Homo sapiens: one gene and its partners. The protein of the gene in region 2 purifies or fractionates together with the protein of the main gene of each other region. This does not show direct contact. Each region holds a gene or a part of one and is shown on either strand. Other genes may lie near its edges.

The links.
Region 1: the proteins of TAFA1 (region 2) and ZER1 purify together in Homo sapiens (affinity purification with mass spectrometry; 2 studies listed by BioGRID and IntAct, with this or other methods). This does not show direct contact.
Region 3: the proteins of TAFA1 (region 2) and NRXN3 purify together in Homo sapiens (affinity purification with mass spectrometry; 2 studies listed by BioGRID and IntAct, with this or other methods). This does not show direct contact.

What each region holds. Positions count from the first base shown.
Region 1 is NC_000009.12:128,733,928-128,740,949, reverse strand, and holds part of ZER1 (protein zer-1 homolog), read left to right. Parts: intron 1-62; coding exon 63-178; intron 179-830; coding exon 831-1,019; intron 1,020-5,518; coding exon 5,519-5,616; intron 5,617-7,022. UniProt on the Homo sapiens protein: Serves as substrate adapter subunit in the E3 ubiquitin ligase complex ZYG11B-CUL2-Elongin BC. Acts to target substrates bearing N-terminal degrons for proteasomal degradation with the first four residues of substrates being the key recognition elements.
Region 2 is NC_000003.12:68,007,235-68,014,256, forward strand, and holds part of TAFA1 (chemokine-like protein TAFA-1 isoform 1 precursor), read left to right. Parts: intron 1-7,022.
Region 3 is NC_000014.9:78,165,660-78,173,372, reverse strand, and holds the start of NRXN3 (neurexin 3), read right to left. Parts: upstream 3,001-7,713; 5' UTR 2,699-3,000; intron 1-2,698. UniProt on the Homo sapiens protein: Neuronal cell surface protein that may be involved in cell recognition and cell adhesion. May mediate intracellular signaling. Functions as part of a trans-synaptic complex by binding to cerebellins and postsynaptic GRID1.

The DNA of each region.
Region 1 (7,022 bases), on a different chromosome or scaffold from region 2:
AATACCAGATACTAAGTCATTAAGTACTAATTGATGCGGCCCATTGGCTCTCCTTTTCCCAGGAATTCCCAGAGAAGCAGGAACTGCATAGGAATATGCTAGGACTTTTGGGGAATGTGGCAGAAGTGAAGGAGCTGAGGCCTCAACTAATGACTTCCCAGTTCATCAGCGTCTTCAGGTTGGTATTTTTAATCCTTTCCCTTTTTGCCTTAGCTGCCACAATGCTCAGAGCTCTAGCGTTTGCTCAGTTGCACAACTGCTCTTAGCCTAGGTTTGCTATAAATGTCATTTTCCCTCGATAATGTGGTTTCTTATTCATTCAATCCTTCGTAAGTGGTCCTTTTGTAATTATATCTTTTTTTTTTTTTTTGAGATGGAGTCTTGCTCTGTCACCCAGGCTGAAGTGCAGTGGCACAATCTAGGCTCACTGCAAGCTCTGCCTCCCGGGTTCACGCCATTCTCCTGCCTCAGCCTCCCGAGTAGCTGAGACTACAGGCGCCTGCCACCACGCCCAGCTAATTTTTTTGTATTTTTAGTAGAGATGGGGTTTCACCATGTTAGCCAGGATGGTCTCGATCTCCGGACCTCGTGATCCACCTGCCTTGACCTCCCAAAGTGCTGGGATTACAGGCGTGAGCCACTGCGCCCAGCCTGTAATTATATCTTAAATGACCTCAAATCCCTTTAGAAGTAGTCTGGGTATATAGACGATATGGGATAAAGAAATAAGTAGCACCTCTTGCTTCTGGTTTTAAGTTGGGGTCCTGCCGCTGGTATCTGAAGAGAAACTGGGGGAGTGGGACTCCATTTTTCTGTCTTTCTCCTGGCAGCAACCTGTTGGAGAGCAAGGCCGATGGGATCGAGGTTTCCTACAATGCCTGCGGCGTCCTCTCCCACATCATGTTTGATGGACCCGAGGCCTGGGGCGTCTGTGAGCCCCAGCGTGAGGAGGTGGAGGAACGCATGTGGGCTGCCATCCAGAGCTGGGACATAAACTCTCGGAGAAACATCAATTACAGGTGTGGGCAGGGCAGGGAGCGGGGATGCGGTGTGGAATATGGGGTAAGTGCTGGGCAGGATGCTCATACCATTAAGGTCTGCTCAGAGCTCCCACCTTCCTTCTGGTCTTCTGTAGGGTTCTGCTTTCACTCATTGATACGTAGCCGCACACAGCACAGAGCATACATAAGGGCACGATCTCATCCGTGCAGCCTGGAGCATTTGTCATACATGCCAACATCTGCATGTACCCAAAGCCTGCTCTTTGCAAACCACTAATACCTACTGATTTGTGGGGAGGGGTGGGGAGAAAATAGACACACAACAGAAAACCATACAGGTGGGCCGGGCACAGTAGCTCTTGCCCATAATCCCAGCACTTTGGGAAGCTGAGACAGGAGGATCACTTGAGCCCAAGATTTCCTTTCTTTTCTTTTTTTTTTTTTTTTGAGACAGAGTCTTGCTCTGTCGCCCAGGCTGGAGTGCAGTGGTGCAATCTCAGCTGACTGCAAGCTCTGCCTCCTGGGTTCACGCCATTTTCCTGCCTCAGCCTCAGAGTAGCTGGGATTACAGGCACCCGCCACCACGCCCGGTTAATTTTTTTGTATTTTTAGTAGAGACGAGTTTTCACCGTGTTAGCCAGGATAGTTTCGATCTCCTGACCTCGTGATCCGCCCACGTCGGCCTCCCAAAGTGCTGGGATTACAGGCATGAGCCACTGCGTCCAGCTGAGCCCAAGATTTCAAGACCAGCTTGGGCAACATAGTGAGACTTCCTCTTTACGAAAAATTTTAAAAATCAGGCCAGGTGCAGTGGTTCACGCCTGTAATCATAGCACTTTAGGAGGCTGAGGCGGGCAGATCACGAGGTCAGGAGTTCAAGACCAGCCTGCCCAACATGGTGAAACCCCGTCCCTACTAAAAATACAAAAATTAACCTGGCGTGGTGGCACATACCTGTAATCCCAGCTACTCAGGAGGCTGAGGCAGGAGAATCGCTTGAACCCAGGAGGCAGAGGTTGCAGTGAACCGAGATGGCGCCACTGCATTCCAGCCTGGGCAACAGACCAAGACTCCATCTCAAAAAAAAAAAAAAAAAAAAATGAGCTGGGTGTGATGGTGCACACCTGTAGTCCCACCTACTGGGGAGGCTGAGGCAGGAGGGTCACTTGAGCCCAGGAGGTCGAGGCTGTAGTGAGCCAACATCATGCTACTGCACTCCAGCCTAGGGGACAGAATGAGACCATTTCTTTAAAAAAAAGAAGAAGGTCAGGCGCGGTGGCTCACACCCGTAATCCCAGCACTTTGGGAGGCAGAGGCGGGCGGATCATGAGGTCAGGAAATCGAGACCATCTTGGCTAACGCAGTGAAACCCCACCTCTACTAAAAATACAAAAAATTAGCCGGGCGTGGTGGCATGCGCCTGTAGTCCCAGCTACTCGGGAGGCTGAGGCAGGAGAATGGTGTGAACCTGGGAGGCGGAGCTTGCAGTTAGCCGAGATCGCGCCACTGCACTCCAGCCTGGGCGACAGAGCGAGACTCCGTCTCAAAAATAAATAAATAAAAATAAAAATAAAAATAAATTAAAAAAACAAGAAAACAAAACAGGGCCGGGCACAGTGGCTCACACCTGTAATCCCAGCACTTTGGGAGGCAGAGGCGGGCAGATCATGAGGTCAGGAAATCGAGACCATCTTGGCTAACGCAGTGAAACCCCACCTCTACTAAAAATACAAAAAATTAGCCGGGCGTGGTGGCATGCGCCTGTAGTCCCAGCTACTCGGGAGGCTGAGGCAGGAGAATGGCGTGAACCTGGGAGGCGGAGCTTGCAGTTAGCCAAGATCGCGCCACTGCACTCCAGCCTGGGCGACAGAGCGAGACTCCGTCTCAAAAATAAATAAATAAAAATAAAAATAAAAATGAATAAAAAAAACAAGAAAACAAAACAGGGCCGGGCACAGTGGCTCACACCTGTAATCCCAGCACTTTGGGAGGCTGAGGCAGGCGGATCACCTGAGGTCAGGAGTTCGAAACCAGCCTGGCCAACACAGTGAAACCCCATCTCTGCTAAAAATACAAAAATTAGCCAGGCATGGTGGTGGGCACCTGTAATCCCAGCTACTTGGGAGGCTGAGGCAGGAGAATCACTTGAACCTGGAAGGCAGAGGTTGCAGTGAGCCAAGAACTCGCCACTGCACTCCAGCCTGGGCAACAGAGTGATACTCCATCTCAAAAAAAAAAGAAGAAGAAGAAAACAAGAATCGTTCATAATCTCACTCCCTGAAAGAGAACTCCTGTTGACATTTTGGTGTGTCTCCTTCCAGCAGTGTTTCTATGCACAGATTTCATTACTTTAAGTCAAGCTGGCATCAATTCCTACTGTTTTGTGACTGACTGGCCAATCACCAGGCATGGATCTCCCTCGTCATTTTAGGACGGAGTCACTTTCTTTGTGCCATCCTGTACAGATGGACATTTCAGTTGAAAACCCATACTGGGAGGAACAGGCTGACATTGGTAGCGTTGCCAGTGTGCCAAGTACTATAGTTCTTGGGGAGAAAGGAAGCGGAATCGCTGGCCCAGGAGTTTTGCACACACGTGTTTCAGGCTTTTGGACCATGACTCCAGGCTGGCCCACAGAAGGCCCTCGTCAGAAGAGCAGTCACAGGCCGGATGCGGTGGCTCACACCTAGAATCCCAGCCACTTTGGGAGGCCAAGGCAGGAAGATCACTTGAGCTCAGGAGTTTGAAACCAGCCTGGGCAATATAGTGAGCCCTCACCTCTACAAAAAAAAAAATTTTTTTTTTGAGACGGAGTCTCGCACTGTCACCCAGGCTGGAGTGCAATGGTGTGATCTTGGCTCACTGCAACCCCCGTCTCCCAGGTTCAAGCGATTCTCCTGTCTCAGCCTCCCGAGTAGCTGGGATTACAGGTGCACGTTACCATGCTCAACTAATTTTTTGTACTTTAGTGGAGACGGGGTTTCACTGTGTTGCCCAGGTTGGTCTCAAACTCCTGAGCTCAGGCAATCCACCCCCCTCAGCCTCCCAAAGTGCTAGGATTACAGGTGTGAGCCATTGCACCTGGCCAAAAAAAATTTTTTTTTAATTAGCCAGGCATGGTGGCTCACACCTATAGTCCCAGCTCCTCAGGAGGCTGAGGTGGGAGGAACACTTGCATGGCCTGGAAGGTCAAGGCTGCAGTGAGCTGTGATCATGCCACTGCACTCCAGCCTGGGCAGCAGAGCGAGACCCTTTCTCCAAAAAAAAAAAAAAAAAGGCCAGGCATGGTGGCTCACGCCTGTAATCCTAGCACTTTGGGAGGCCAAGGCGGGTGGTCAGGAGTTCAAGACCAGCCTGGCCAACAGCAAAATGATGCTCTAACCAAAAATTAGCTGGGCATGGTGGCATGCACCTGTAGTCCCAGCTACTCGGGAGGCTGAGGCAGGAGAATCATGTGAACCCAGGAGGCAGAGGTTGCAGTGAGCCGAGATTGCACCACTGAACTCCAGCCTGGGCGACAGAGTGAGACTCCGTCTCAAAAAAAAAAAAAACAAAGAAAAAAGGGCTGGACATGGTGGTTCACGCCTATAATCCCAGCACTTTGGGAGGCCAAGGCAGGTGGATCACTTGAGGTCAGGAGTTCGAAACCAACCTGGCCAACATAGTGAAACCCTGTCTCTACCAAAAATACAAAATTTAGGCCGGGCGCGGTGGCTCACGCCTATAATCCCAGCACTCTGGGAGGCTGAGGTGGGTGGATCACGAGGTCAGGAGATCGAGACCATCCTGGCTAACACGGTGAAACCCCGTCTCTACTAAAAAATACAAAAAAATTAGCCGGGTTTGGTGGTAGGCGCCTGTAGTCCCAGCTACTCGGGAGGCTGAGGCAGGAGAATGGCGTGAACCAGGGAGGCGGAGCTTGCAGTGAGCCGAGATCATGCCACTGCACTCCAGCCTGAGCGACAGAGCAAGACTCTGTCTCAAAAGAAAAAAAAATGCAAAAATTAGCTGGGTGTGGTGGCACACCCCTGTAGTCTCAGTTACTCAGGAGGCTGAGGCAGGAGAATCGCTTGAACCCAGGAGGCAGAGGTTGCAGTGAGTGGAGATTGCACCAGTGCACCCCAGCCTGGGCAACAGAGCGAAACTCCGTCTCACAAAAAAAAAAAAAAAAAAAAAAAAAAAAAAAACCAGGTCACACGTGCTTCTGTTCCCAGGGTGCCTCTCCCCTCTTCCCCACAGGCTGGGTCTCTGCTCCTTGCTGAGGTCTCCAGCTTTCTGCTCCTCCTAATCTGGGTCCCTTGTGCCTCCCTCATGTGCTTGTGCCTTTATCCTCTCCAAGGGAACCTTGTTGTGCAGCCTGCCAGTGGGATGCAGGGCCAGCTGTCCCTTCTCCCTGGCATCCTGCCAGCCTATCATGGTTGGTCACTAGGATTCTCCAGTGGGAGGAAACCTCAGACAAGAAAAGACACACTCCCCACCCTCAGCATCCACAGTGACCTTGATTTCTTTTCCTGCAGGTCATTTGAACCAATTCTCCGCCTCCTTCCCCAGGGAATCTCTCCTGTCAGCCAGCACTGGGCAACCTGGGCCCTGTATAACCTCGTGTCTGTCTACCGTGAGTGCCAACTTGTCCTGGGTTCAGACACTCATCCAGCTGAAAGCAGATGTGCCCTCAGGGAGTTTGTAGTCCAGGAGGGGGGCATTAATTGCTGCTGTCAGCTTTTGTGCCTCAGAGCAGAACCCTCCACTTTCCAGCGTTTGTGGGACACCCAGCTTAAGGGCTCACTCCTGCCTCATCACCAGAAGCAGGCCTGGCAGGCGAAATACCTGTGCAGAGTTCCTAGACAGCTTTCTTAATGCTTCCCGCTTCCATGTGCAGGAACAGTCCAAAATCTCCATGCCTGCTGGGCTCAGTGGTGCACACCAGCTATTCAGGAGGCCGAGACAGGAGAATTGCCTGAGGTCTGGAGTTTCCAGCTGCAATGACCTATGATCATGCCTGTGAATAGCCATTGCACTCCGGCCTGAGCAACATAGTGAGACCCCCATCTCCAGAAGTAAAATAAAAGTCTCCATGCTGTCTGCATGAAAAAAAAAAAAAACACATACCATCAGCTGGTTCCAACCTGGCAGGTCACCAGAATCACCTGGTAAAAATACAGATAAATCTTAGTCCTTGGATTTGTTGAAAAAGAATATCCAGAGACAGGGCTTAGAAATCTATATTTTTACAGAAATTCCTCAAAGGATCACCATCTTTAGGAGCCACTGGTTTCACTGGTTTGGGTGACATCTTCCATAGAATGAGCGCTGGAGGCCAGGCATAGTGGCTCACACCTGTAATCCCAGCACTTAGGGAGGCTGAGGTGGGAGGATTGTTTGAGCCCAAGAGGTTGAGACCAGCACAGGCAACACAGCGCAACCCTGTCTCTACTTAAAAAAAAAAAAATTAGTCCGGGTGCAGTGGCTCATGCCTGTAATCCTAGCACATTGGGAGGCTGAGACGGGCAGATCATTTGAGGCCAAGAGTTTGAGACCACCCTGGCCAACATAGTGAAACCCCGTCTCTACTAAAAATACAAAAATTAGCTGGGCTTGATGGCACGTGCCTGTAGTCCCAGCTACTAGGGAGGCTGAGACAAAATAATCGTTTGAACCCAGGAGGCAGAGGTTGCAGTGAGCTCAGATCGTGCCACTGCACTCCAGCCTGGGTGACAGAGTGAGACTCTGTCTCAAAAAAAAAATTATATCTATTATATATATATATATATTTTTTTTAAGATTTTATATATATATATATATATTTTTTTTTTTTTTTTTTGAGACGGAGTTTTGCTCTGTCGCCCAGGCTGGAGTGCAGTGGCGCGATCTCGACTCACTGCAAGCTCCGCCTCCCGGGTTCACGCCATTCTCCTGCCTCAGCCTCCCGTGTAGCTGGGACTACAGGCGCCCGCCACCATGCCTGGCTAATTTTTGTATTTTTAGTAGAGACGGGGTTTCACCGTGTTAGCCAGGATGGTC
Region 2 (7,022 bases):
CTTCACTTTCTGTTCTTCCGGTATGCTCAGTGGCATTTTTCCCTCTCTTTTGGCAGTTTCAGGGACGAAGTCCCTCCCACCTGATTTTTGTTTTGTTTTGTTTTGTTTTTCCTATATTGAATTTTTAGTTCCGGACGCATTTTGCTTTCTTCCTCTTAATGTTCAAAGTATATTTCTCACCCTTCCACGGCCTCGCTCTTCATTCTGGATTTTGCTCTCCTTCTTTGCCTCTCCAGCTTTCTCATTACAGTCCCTCCCAGCTCGATTGTCCTTACCTTCCCCGGTTCTTGGAAAAATTTCCTTCCATTTTCTGTTCAGTATCAGCCTTCGCATCCTTCTACTACTCACCCCGCCTTCACCCTCCACCCCACCTCCCTCCCTCCCCTCCCTTCCTCTCTCGCGACGGTCAAGTTCGGGCTCTGGGGACCAGTTGCGCGCCCAAGTTTCTGATGCTCAGTTCTGAAGTGCTCCCAGCCCTCCACCCGCCTCTCCAAATCCCATCAATGGCCTCCTCCCCCCATCCGTCGAGCTTCCTCCTGCTGCGTAGTCCAGCGTCTACGCCCTCGCCTTTCCCTGGCTCCTCAGTCGGCCTGGACACCGATACTAGGCTCTTCTGTACAGCCCTCCAGCAATACCTTCCGGGGCCCCGCTTGCTGCCTCCTGGGGCTCAGCTTCCCTGCTGGGGGCAGGCATGTCAGAGCGCGGATGCAGCCCAGGGTCCTCCCGCGCGCCTGCACCAGGCTGCAGCGAGCGCGCAAGCCTGCTGGGTGCTGGAGCTCGGGCCGCCCCGGGAGAAGGGGTGGGGCTGGCTTGTGCTAGGGGCTGAGGCTGGGGGCTGTTTCTGGGCCCTGCCACCCTGTTTCCCCCAGCCCTGGTCTGACAGGGAAGGCGAGGGGGCGCTGGTGCCCCTGCAGGTGGGCAGGGAAACCGCCCTCTTCAGGACGCGCTTGTATTTCTGCATCCTGTGTCCTGAGCCTGGCGCGGGAACCGCCACTCAAACCCTCAGTGCAGCCGAGATGGAGGGAAAACAAAAGTGAATTTGAGATTCCCACTTTACCTCCAATCACTTAATCACAATTTGTTCTGGCACAAATGTCTTTCACTTGTTACATGGTCATAAATAATAAACAGTGCGGGACATCTGCATTCGTTGTGATGATCAAGAATAAGAATTCATAATAAAAACAACTACTACGTGTATGTTTTAGGCAGGGCTCTGAGGATTAGTTCACACTGTTCAGTTTAATCCTTATGCAAGTGGGTGTAATTTCTCCCCTTTCGCCCAGGAAACAGAAGCTCTGAAAGGTTAGGTGGCTTGTCTGAGGCCACACAGGGAATAGCTGCCATTGGAGGTCAAATCAGCACGATTCACCGCCAGAGCCTGTGTCCTCAGGAGGCGAAAATGCCTCTCGGTGCACCGAGTGACCATGCCAAATAGCTTCTTTGAGGAAGTGTGAGCCCCTTCATATAATTTTTGAAAACTTTCATTATGTCAATACTTGGTCCAATCTCAACTGCACACCCATTCTGAGAGGTGGCCATGGCAGAACTAGTGAGTGGCACGTGGTTGAGGGGGAAAGGCAGGGCTCGGGGCTGGCCACCTGAGTCTCTGTCACTTAAGGTTAGTGACATAACCTTGGGCAACTGACTTTTCTGCTCTCATTCCCCATTTATAGATATGGTGGTTGGGGGCGGGGAGAGGTGGGGTGTAAATATAATAAAAATAACTTCGAATAAGTCTTTTGTAAGCTGTAAAGTTCTTCACAAATATTGGGAATTACTGATGTCCCCCCTTAATAGACTGTAAACCCACAAGCCAGGGATGTTTGATGAATAAAGTTTTGCTGTTCACACAGCTAATAATCCACATAGCCAAGGCAACAACTCTTTTTTTTCTCTTGCTATTGTTTTGTTAACCATGTGGTACATGGCTAGAATATACTACCAATGCTATGTGTCTTATTTTACTCTGTGCGTATAATCATGAAATAGATACAGTACCGTTTGTAACAAGCTTTCACATAGTTGTCTCTCTTAATCAGTGAATATATGGAGTTTTTCATTGGGGGTTATGTATAATAAGTAAACTTATGTCTTTATAGGGCTTATTGTTAAAATACCGTAGTTTAAAACTGAGAATCACATATTAGGTTCTGGCTGAAATTAAACTCAATATTTGTTTTCTCCATTTTCTTCCTTAGAATTTGTGTATTATCAACCAATGCGTGGTTGATCTGTGCGTCAAATACCCCAAGAAACTGCAGCACTGAAACCAATTTTGACCCCAAGTGCTAATACATCTGAGACCCATTTCAGCTTTATTGTTGAAATGAAGAAACTATAAATATCCCTTCCTAGATGCAGAATGATTAAAATGATATTAAACTTAACATCCAATAGTTCTATATAATACGTTTATTCAACTTTCTTTGGTTTTTGACAATAGCTGCAAAGATTAAAGTGATAGATCTTGGTCATAGCCATATTCTAGATTATTCCAGTCAGACTCTTTAATACAATCTTTTGATTTTAAGAATAAAAATATGCTTTTATTTTGGATGAGAGTTGTGACGTTTTCCCTTGTAGGTCTTAAATCTCCAGGGACACTAATGAAATGTGTATGAAAACAAGATAGAAATCAGGGCCAGTTATCTGTGACAATCCACCCCTAAATGAACAAATAAATAAATAAATTGCTGGATAAATGAGCAAAAAGGAAAAACATAATCTCATTTTCTCAAATCGGTTAAAACAAGTGACATGATGAGAAAAAAATGAGACACCCGCAGACCCTGAGCTCTGCCACATTTGCCTAAGCTTGAAAAATCACCTCTTTCATAAAGCAAGAGCAGGCAGACTCCGCGTGCATACCAAGTATCTGGGAAATGTGGAAAATGACAAATCTTTCACTCAGAGCCTTGAATGGAAGGAGAGTGAAAGCTTTACAGCTGCTTCCTCACCTGCTTAGGAATGGCTCCCCCCAATCCCCTCCCTCTGTTCCCCAGCCTCTTACGGGCACTTTGGCTGTTCCTTGCATGGTAATATTGATGGTATTCAGACAGCAAACAGCCAATTTCAGTCTCTCAAGAAATAATCCACTACATTGACAGGTGAGTGGAATTTGACGTGATGTTCCCCTCGTTCAGATTGCCTCACCTGGATGGCACCAGCCAGCCAGGGTCCTTTAGGGGAAATGGTTAGAGACTTGGGCCAATTTCTGCTGTCATAACATGAAATCGAGACCACGTTTTTGTGAGGCCGTGAATTTGTGATCTGTCTTCTCAATGCAGTGGGTTTGTACACAAACAGAATGAGAATATGTTAACTAGAAAACTGACTCATTTTAATGTATTCGCCTGCAGTCTCTAACTACTTCCTATTTTTCATATTTATAGTATTAGGAATGCACCATTTATTTTCAGTTACTCACTAGTTAAGGAAGATTAAAACAGTCAATCAAATGAAAGTGAATTTTAAAATTACACTAATGAGTAAAATGTGCTGTAGATTAACAGATTTGTAATTTCAATAATTTAATATTTGGCTGGATCAAGTTTTTATTTGGGGAATGATGTAGGAAATTACCCTAAAAACTTGAAGAATACTTGAGCTTCTTTTTTATTTTTCATTATAAAGCTATAGACAGGACATTTAGTTGTAAAAAGACACACTAAAAAATGAAAACTCAAAAGTGGTGTTCAATTGTTTCAGGTAATTATAAAATAGACACCTCAACTCTTTATAATCACCAGGTTTTTTTGTGTAACAGGTAAAAAAAGATTGAACGGTTTTTGCTAATCATAATTTTCTGTTTTAGGATGAGTTTTTCCCCTTATGGATATATGAATTAGGACAGCAATTTTGATAGTTACTTAATTTTGAATGTGTGTGTGTGGGGGGTGGTGGGGGGGTGGGTGTCCTTGAAACTTAGTAAAATATAAATCATCTCAAAATTATTTAGCAAGAGAAGATCCTTGGGATTCTTCAGTAATTTTAAATTATATAGATAAATTACATGAGACAAGAAGTTTTAAGTGCCTAATGAATCATTTATTCCTGAGTCACTGCTATTTTATCGACAGGGGTGTACGGAAATGATATATAAAAAGATTACTCTGAATAGAGTTGTCTGTGTAATTTATACTTGACCTGATTTAAAGCTATATTAAGCAAACTATGTGTGTTAGATATATTCATTTTTGCCTTGATTATTACATACTGAACATCACCTTCCATTTTAAAGTAGGATATTTTTGTTAAAATATTAAAAAGCATTTTTGTATGCCTTATACTTATTTTTACCTTACTATTCAATATTACTTTATTGAAAGCTGCTCAGAGAATATGCAGTAGAATACCAGAGTACATTACAATAAAGGGTTGTTTTATAACTGTAATATAAAAGAAATAGTGGGTACAACTATGGTCGCATATTGGCTCTTTAAGAATGCGTACCAGTGCTAGGCTGCTAAATATAGCGAATTGGCCTAAGGATTGGAGCAGACAGGTTGTTATTCGGTGCAAGCTGGTGCTTAGTGATAATCCATCGATCATCTGATTGATCCTATTGACCTCATCGCAGAGTCAGGGTGCAGCTATTGATATTTGATCAGACCCTATAATATCAAAGCCAAATACAGATGCAAATAAATATTTCCTGCTGATCTTATGAACTTATAAGAAAATTATTACAATGCTATAAAAACTCTTACTTACGTAAGCTCAAACCTATGGTTTCAACTCCTAGTTAGGGAAAATAGATGTTATACCACACTGCAAACAAAAATATTTAGAAATGGCAAAAATGAAGTTTAGCCTTTAATTGTTAATTTCTTAAAGTTTACTTAAGAAGACAATTTGAACTCTTTTAAACATTCTTTCAATTTTAAACTTTCTGCGAAAGTATCAAAGCTTAACTGGATAAATCGGCATGCCATTTTTGATAACAATTTAGTAACATCTCCCAAGATGTAAAATGTGCAAATCCTGACACTTCCATTTCCAGGTGCTTATACTAAGAAAATTATTAGACAAATGTGAAAAGATGTATGTTAAGCTATAGTTATTGCAACAATGGTTTTAATGGCAAAAAATTGAAGAGGAGTTTCATCTCCGTCAAAAGGGGATTGGTAAAATAAATCATAGCACATCCACACAATGGGATTTGATGTAGACATTAAAAGGGATGAGAATATGTCTATCTACCCACGAGGAAAAATGCCCATGTTACATTGCTGAGTGGAGAAAACAAGGAACAGAATACTCTGCTTCAAAATAATTTTGGAGAAAAGAATCATATTTGCACATACATAAAAATGTCAAAAAGGATATAAACATCCTTTCTACAGTGGTAGTTAAATCTGGTGAGAGGACTAGAATGACTTGAACTTTTAACTTCCTATAATTTTTATTTTTTGGATTCATTTTTGGAATGAACATATATTGCTTTTTATCAAAAAGCTTAAAATATTAGTGAGAGAGTTTCAATGGTAAAATTAGAAAGATACCAAACCACGTTTCCAGTTTAAGAAAAAAGAAGGGAGAATAAGTAGGAAAATATCATGAGGCCCTTTTCCTTTTAAGGGTCTTAATCCAGTAAAATGTCTAGGCCAGCATTTCAGAATTATACTTCATGAAACACTGTCTTCTGAAGATACTCCTTGGACAAAAGTGTCCACTGTTTGTTATGTTCTCCTCCTGGAGATTTGCAGTGCTTGTAAGTATATGAAAGTTCTGGAAAGATTTGCGTGTAAGAAATCTGATTTTGTTTAACTAAAATTTTCCAGACACTTTTTTTTTCGACAGCATCTACCATACCTATTCAGATTACATGCATTGAGAAGCATGGGCCAAGATAATTCTGGAATCCTCTGTTCATCCTTTTATCTCTCACTTCTACTGAGTTGACACATACTAGGTTCTCAGAAAATACTTGTTTAATTACTAAGGAAACGAGGAATGAAGATTTTGGTGGAATCTTAAACTGTTCCTTAGTTGTTACTACTTGTGTGTGAGTGTGTGTGTACATATGGATGTATGTGCATTTTTGTGTGTGTGTTTATAATTTCGAGATTTCTCAAATGGAGAGTGTCATAAACATTATTTTGTCAGTATAACATACATGTATTATGTGTGTATCTTTATGTAGATATTTGACTCTATTCAATTTTGACAGCTACTCCATTCAAAATAATTCAAAGACTATACTTACAAATGTAGTGAAAAATTAAATCCCTAAGGTTTTCAGTCACAGGTTTGGGGATTTTTCTCCTCTATAAGTTTAGAAAAGACTATAGGAGTTGTCTTGAGGGACTGAAGAGGCTTCACTTGGCAAATAGGGAAAGGACTTTTACTTTCCAAATCTTTTGATATCAAGAGAAAAAGTCACTTTGCCTTTGTAGCAGAGAGAAAATAACACCAGACAAGCACTTTTTCCTTTCTTTGGGAATAAAGAGAAGATGAATTTTGTTTAAAATTTGTATAACCTAATTGAATTCCCCAAAGATAATACCCTCAAAGCACTTAGGGAACTCTGTTGGCCCATTATTTCTTTCTCTTTTCCCAACTTCATATAATAAAGGTCCAAAAAAGAAAAGAAAAATGATATTATCACAGGGTTTCTCCAAGAAAATGGATAGGAATGCTGAGGGATCTGCCTATTCATTAAGCAGATCTTTCTTTAACGCAGGGAAGGAGTCAAACCAAGTTGTTCTCTGAGTCTGCAAGGGAGGAAGACCTCTCACATCCTTAGGTGTGGCATTGTTCTACTGATGTAATTACTGGCATTTACCTTTACTATGCAGTTACTAGACCTTCTTTTCTAGGTGTGCTTTCATATCACACAAGAATAAATCCAAGCTGAATCTGTGTACATTCAGAGGACTTTTCTTATTTTCCACTTTTGTGGATGAAGAATGGACCAATTGATTCACATACTTTCAAGTGAATACAGAATGTCAGCTCCTAGATTTAGATAAGCTAATACACAGGCAGGGGGTAAAGCACCTCAGTGTTCCTGAAAT
Region 3 (7,713 bases), on a different chromosome or scaffold from region 2:
TTTGCAGCAGTGGGCTAATTACGACCAAGCCCCCTCACCAAATTAACCCCTCCCTTCCCTCTCTCTTTTTTTTCTCTAAAAGGCCAATTGAAGAATAATGTGTTTTTATAGATAATGGATTTTTTTTCCAGGAGCGAGAGAAAGGGGGGTGCAGAATAGAAATTCTGCAAACCGGTGACTTCCAACCTCACCTCCGTCTCCCCCCACATCCCCGTTTGCTGTAGCATCTCATCTACCGTTCTCCCACCATTCTCTCATCCCCTACCACCCAAAAGAAAAGACCTTCCTACCATGCACATCGACAAACACACCAACCGCCACCCAATCTCAGTAGCCGATCTCAAAACCCCAAGCATCAGTCCACCTCAATACATCCTTTCCCTTATATAAGCAGCAAATCATCAACATAGTCAGGAGAAACGCAGCACTAAAATGAAATCAACAAAAACGGAGGCCAGAACGCCGTCAAAACCCCAATAATTAATAATAGGGAACTACCAGAGAAGCAAAGACGTAGCTGTCTCTCAAAATCTAGAATCCCTTTAATTTCTGCCCCCTCCTCTTCTCAAGAAGCAATTTTTTTTAAATTATTATTTCACTAGAAAGGGCCAGAAAGCTCCAGAAAAGGGCATTCGCACAGTCCGGTTGTTTTTAAAAAATAAACCCAGCCCTGTTGCTCACTTTAATAGCGAACTTCCAGTGTCCAGCCTTTTCCCCCCCTTCCAGAAGGAAGACTGACTCGCAGGATGAACCTCAGGCTGCAGAAAATGGGCCAAGAGCCCTTACTCCACTCCCCAACAACAACAAAAAATCAAACAATAGGAATATCTGCACAACCAGCACCCGTCTGAAATATCGTTTGCCCCATATGACTTAGGCAGATTAAGCCCGAAGATTAAAAAATAAATACCAGCCTTGCCTCCTCTCACTCCCCTCCATCCTTCCGCCACATACCCAGTAGCCCTTAGGTAAACTTGCCCATCATAACCAGCGGGACCATTTTAACTTGAAAGGCGATGCAGAAGCCCTTGAACGATGAAGGAAGGCTCTACCCAGAACGGCAAATTAATAAAGAGCCAGTTCTCCAGCCTCCCCAGACTAACCTCCAGGTGCCCCCAGATAGACTATCCTGGGTACCAAGTCACGCAGCGTGCTGGGAGTTCAAATTTCCACTGGAACCTTCATCACAAAGGCAAACGGTCATCTGACCCCCAAAATTACACCATCCTCCAGGTGTGACAAGGAGTGCCCCCTCTCCCTCCCAGGGCCATCCACAGGACCCAGCGGAGAGGAAGAAAGAAGAATGTTGGGGTGGCTTGTAGTGGTAAAAGAAAAACTATCTCCCCAAAGCGGGAACCGAAGGAAGCGGGGAGAAGACAGCTCTTGTCCTACCAGCTCTTTTATTTGCCCTGACTCTATCTTGCTCCATCCTAAGCTAGCTCTCAATGATCTCTGACCTTTGCATTAAAAAAAAAAGTATTAACAATAAAGATCAGAGAAGAGCAATCCTACTTTACCTAAACCCCAATAATGGTTAGCAAAAATATGATGTTCTCATTGCATGATGATATTTCTACATCCAAATTAAAAGAGGCAGACATTTAATGGAGGAAGGGAAAATTTTATTTTTTTTTAACAAGTAATCACAGGGTAAGTCACCTGCAAAGCAGCCGAGCCCTTAGGTTGGTATTACATCACTGGCCTAAGAAGGGATGGGGGGTGGGGGGACACATTTTTTTCCTTGTCATCAGGATGATGTTTCTAAAGCAGTTAAGTTTTGTGGTTAAAAAAGAGAGAGGGAAAGAGCTGAAACTCTGGGTACAGCACAATGCCTGGAAAAAACAATACATCGAACCAGGCTTTAAGGTCACTGAGAGCTTGCAAAACCCACAGTGCTTACACAGAGTGGAAGTTTTCAGGCAAGCCTGCTACTAAATCATTAATATAAACAAATGGAAGGCAGTGGAGGAAGATTCCCTTGTAACCGATCCAAACAGGAGCACACACCCGCGCACACACACACACACACACTCACACACACACTCCCTTTTCACCTTCTCCAAGTATGCCCACCTTCACAAGACAGGAGTCCAACCTGAATTTTTAGACTCTAGGACCACCTCCTCACACCCCCTCAAAAAAAAAAAAAAAAAGCACACACACACTCACATACACGTCAATTCCTCAACAGCTAGGGAAATCCCTGTCTCAATTCAATTTTGTTTTCTTGTGATCCTCAGAGTGTCCTTTCTGTTTCTCATTTTAACCAGCCCAAATAAATAAATGAATAAATGAGGGGGGAAGTGACTACAAAATGTCAAAAAAAAAGTATCTGCCCAAAATGAAGTGATGAGCACACATCATTTCAGACTAACAATTCAAGCAAATAGGAGAAAGACTCAAAAAAAAAAAAAAAAAAAGAAGAAGAAGATAAAAATCTAAAACATTCTCTGACTTTTCCAACATCTGGAGGAAAAGGACCCAACTTCCAGGAGAAACTGAAGGAAAAGAAAGGCAGTTGAAAAGCCATTTCCACAGTCAGCCAAGGCTCATGGATACAGTATTCAAAAAAGAAAATCTAGGTTGGTTGCTCCCAACTGAAAACTTCTACCCTCTCAGGAGCAACCTCTTCCCAGAACGGACAAGAACCTTGAGTTGTTTCATGCCCTGACTGCCTTCCTTTCCCCGCAAACCTTACCTTTCCAGTTGAACAGAAGATTTGGGATCTGTCTGTATGTCTGTTTGATGTTTAATCAACTGAGTTTGCTGGGTATGTTTCCTCTTTGGGTAGGTTCAAATTCCAGAATCTTTCTCTCTCCTTTTCCTTTCTCTCTGGGAGGGAGTGGCAGGGTAGAAGGGAGGGGTTGTTGGAGGTGCGAAAAGCAGGTCCTTGGTGGCTGGAGATGCCGAGGCTGAGAGAGGGGAGGACAGGTTGCCTCTCCCTCTCTGTGAGTTGCATGCAAGAGGCGATGTGTAGGGCTGAGCGCTGAGCCTGAGACTGCTGGAGGAGCCCAGGAATTTCACGCACTCCAGAGCCGGCCCCTCCCTCTCCCACACAGACCCCAGCATTTAAAGAGACAGACAGGCCGCCTGGCTCAGGGCTTCACCTCCTCCCTGACTGTTTTGCAAACAGCTGAGAAGATATCATGAGGGAGGGGCAGTTTGCAGCCCCCACAACTAAGAGGCAGTGTCTGAGCTCAGTTCTCCCCTTACTCCAGCCTGAGAGGAGAGTTCTTCCCTAGAATCAGAGTAGGAATTAATATAAAGACAAAATTCTTATTTACAGCTTCAGTAACCAAACCACTTCCCCACTGCTGAGGATGTGTGTGTCTCCTTGCAGACTGAGGGACTCTAACCTACAAGTGTGCCTCAGTTTCCCTGAGTAGTTGCTCTTCCTTGCAAAATCAGGGCAATCTTTGAGCATCTAGTGGAAGTCAGGGCTGTAACTAGGACACAAATCTATTCCTTCAACAAGCACTTTGAATGCCTGCTTAGGATGAAGCATACTGCAAGGGGCTGGGGACATAGAAATGAAAGTGACAAATGGGGCTTCCTCTCTCAGAGCCCCTAGCAGCAAAGACAGACCCAGGCACAGCCCATCCTATCCTAAGGGGCTGCCAGCTAAGGGTCAGAGGCCCGAATCAAGTGTTTTGGTGACTCAGGAAGATGGCTCTCTTTTGTGGCTTGCACTCTGAGCTCTGAGCCTAGACTGCACCCCTAAACCCTTGAAAATCCCTTGCCAGCCTTGACAAACTAGTTCATGTCTGTGGAAACGTTTCCCCAGTCAAACCTAAACAAGAGATGACAGTCGGTGGCACCCAATACAAAGGTTTTGCTCAGCATCAGGCCCTGGCACCTTATGTGAAAATGCAGCCCCAAACTCCTTTCTTCTCCAGCTCCCTTTTTAAGGGCTGCACTGGCATGTCCTCCCTTGGACCAGCACCAATCCACTAATAGCTGTTGAGCACTTACCATATGCCACTACGTGGGTCATCTCATTCAGTCCAGTGAGGTTTGTGCTATTTGACAGTTGAGATCCATTCCACAGTCTTAAAAGTTGAAGCTTTAGAGAGGGTGCCCAAGGTTACACAGCTGGAAGCTGCTAAGAATGAATTTGAACTCAAGTCTATCCCACTCCAGAGCCTGCCTGTTAGCCACAGTACTCTATTGCCTCCAGCCAAGGATGGTAGTTCTTATATTTCTGCCCTTTACTGGATGTTCTTGCAGCATCCTAGCACTTTCCTGACCCAGCAAACTTTAATAGCACATGTACCCGGCATCATGCTCATGAGAAACAAAATGAATCTATCAAGGTCTGAACCCCAAGGACTCCACTAAGCATTGGAGGAGGACAGAAATGTGTTTCTATAAAGCAAAGGGAAAATAATCATGAGAGCAATGTAAAGGAAGCTCTATGGGATTGTCGATAAGCAAGTGATTAATTGTGATTTGGAGGTGGGGGATATCAAGGCAAGCTTGGTGGACTAAAGTGGCATCTGGGCTGGGACTAGACGGACATATGCACTTCCATCATTACTAGCCTACTTTTCAGTCTATTTTGCCTTTCAGATCACAATCTCATTTTCTTATGTGTCTTCGGGTCTCCAGCCTTCAACACCTCCACGGTATCCAGTAGTTTTAGGAACACAAACGAACATGCCTTCATGGATTAATTTTATATGACATCTGACCTCCCACCTATTTACTCTAGACCTGAACTGCCCTGGCCACCAGTTCCATATCCTCCTTACCTGGCCTTCCTAGAAGTCTCTGTACCAAATTTGTCCACAGAATGTGGAAGGGAAGTTCAGAAGGCACAGTGCATGGGATTGCTCTAGATGTCAGGAGCTCCTGAGGGAAGAACCATGTAAAGGAGCCACCATGATCCAGCAGGACATCGGGAATAGCCAGGGAAACTGTACGCTCATCTCGGGGGCAGCAGGAAGAGACCTGAAGGACCTAAGGGATGAGAGGGCGGAAGCCTCAAGGGAGAGCCTGAGGACTCAGTGCCCTGCAGATGTCAGCGCCTGTGGGATTCCTGTGGCAAACACCAGCCTAGGAAGGACATCCCCGTGAGAAGTGCGTCTGCAGAACAGCCTAGAGGTTAAGGGACACGCCTGGATTCCAATCCTTTCTGGGCCACCTAAATTCCTTGTGATTTGAATAACTTTCTTTACCCTCTCCAAGTCTTAGCATCCTCACCTATAAAATGGAGGTAACACCTGTACTTACTTCACAGAGTTGTTTTGAGAAACAAGTAATAAAATACCCGTAGGATGCCTGCCCCACAGAAGTACTCAACAGATGTTCGCTACCCCAGCCCACAGGTCTGCATTTGCCCCTGCATGGGATTATTAACTTTGGACTGCCCCCTATAGTTGGCATTCCTTTATTTCAAGTTATTATATCCCTTTTAATAATTTAGCTTATTATTTAGGGTATCACTGTAGTCACTATTATTTACTTCATTTTACCCCCTTGATGTCTAACCTACTTTAACTTATATATTTTGAATATATTTGTTATTATCATTTTATTCTGCTTTGTACTTTCTTAGGCTCCTTAAGTGTTATTTATCTTTCAATTACTCCAGTTGTATCCTTTTAGTTTGCCTTTTATCATGAAATCTGTGGGCTTATTTTGTCTCATTCCTCCATACCATTTTAGTTAACTACCATTCGGCTCTTTCTAGTGATCCAGCATTCCCCAGATAGCTCCAAATTTGTGAAGATGGTTATGTACAAAATAGCAGGGAAAGACAACATCAAAGAGAGTAAGATGGGTCTCCTTGCAGACGTGTAATGCAACCATAAGCAAAAAGCAATATCAGTTGTTTGCCCAAATGATGGTGCCATGTCAGCAATGGTACTAATTTTTATTTTTTAAGGGAGGACTCAATGGGTACAACTGAAACCCTCAGAGACCCTAGGCCTTCTCAGCTCTCATCTCCGTCCTGGGATAAGGAGGGCCATTATCAGAGGTCATTAAGTTAGAAGGTTCTCTCACAGGCCTATCTTCCTTCCTTTGATTAGATTGTGGGGCTCCATCTTCACTCAGTTCAGGGACAGAACAGACCAGGGACTGTTTCAGCTTTTCTCAAATGTGCCAGACCAGTGCTTTCAGCATGTAGCAAGAAAAAATTTCACTACCAATCAAAAGAATACATTGCCCATGGCATTCTGAAAAAAAAAAAGTTATTTCAGTGATGATAATAACAATAATAATAACAACTGCTACCACAAGTTACCCCCTGCCAACCCTCTACTTAGAAGCATTATGGTTAAGATCCCAAGGCTCTGCAAACAGGACATCTGGATTCAAATCCCAGCTCCACCATTTTTTGGCCATGAGACCTCAGCCAAATTTTGAACATCTCAAGCCTCCACTTTCTCATCTATAAAATGGGAAAAATGGTATCAAATGCTTCCTGTGAGAATTGTATCAAAAGCACCGACAATAGTAAATGGCACCTGGGAAGTCCACAATGGAAAGTATTGGTCATTATTAACAGAGTGGAATTTAAAATATTTAATATCTGAGATGGTCCAGTCAGCAACCAATCAGATTGGAAGGTGACCAAGAGCAACTGGTTTGGCCTGACCAAGGTATACCAGCTACCAGCCTTGATTATTAGGACGTTTACCACCCGCCAGGTACTAAGTTAGGCATTTTTAGGCATTTGGCGTGCACTAATGCATTATCTCATTTAATCCTCACAGCAACTTGGTTTTATTATGTTATGTATTGAAATACATGCAATTGCACATTTATAAATAAGACTATGCCTATAAAATCAGAGTTCTGCATAAAAAGACTTGGCATATCCATTCCTGCCACCCTAATGACTCTTAGGATGTGAATTTCAAGGGTTGCTTTTTCTGGGACATTTTTAGCCTCATTACATAGGTTCCTTCTTTTACTTACTCATTCTTTCAATAACATTTGGGGTAAAAAATTACGGTCCATGTCTCAGTTTATTCATCCATTAAATGAGTGTTTCTATCTAAGTTCCCACTGCTCGACCCCAACCAAACCTGAGAACATCAGTCTTCTCCAGCCAAGACCAAGTCACTAGAAATCAGGCATTAGAGAGTTCTTCTAATCCCTCAGCTAGCACTTCAATTGAGTCAAACCCTCCAGGCTCCCAACCTGCCCCATAAGCTTGGATTTTTAGTCATTAAAGTCCACACATGCCTTATTCCTAAGCAGATTTCAAATTCAGCCCCCAGTGCTATTGGCCCAAAGCATTTTGCCTAAGGCCCCTTCAAACGTTCCTCATGCTCTTCTCTCCTCTCCTCCCCCAAGAGCTGTGCTGCAATGCTGGCCTGCTGGAGTTTATTTGGCTTTCTGTCACCTATGTGATGATGATTCCAGTGTTATTAATAGGTGACAGCTTATTAATTAGTATTATTAGACATGGGCCATGCAGTGCAGACAATACCACAGAGGGGCCTGGCATCCTTCAAGGAGAAGACTTGTACAAAAAGACTTGTCCCTGGGGCCCAGTGAAAGGACACAGGCCCAGCAGTGAGTCAACAGCAGTGCTTCCCAAATTCTAAAAGCCAGGCACCTAATCCAGACAACTGTGTCTGGCACGGGAAGGAGAGAGAAGCGAATGTGAGACTTACAGGCATGTGAGAACACGAGCCCAAAGAGAAGCCTGAGCACTCAGGCCTTAAGGAGGTCACCGCCCATGAAATGTTTCTCACTACA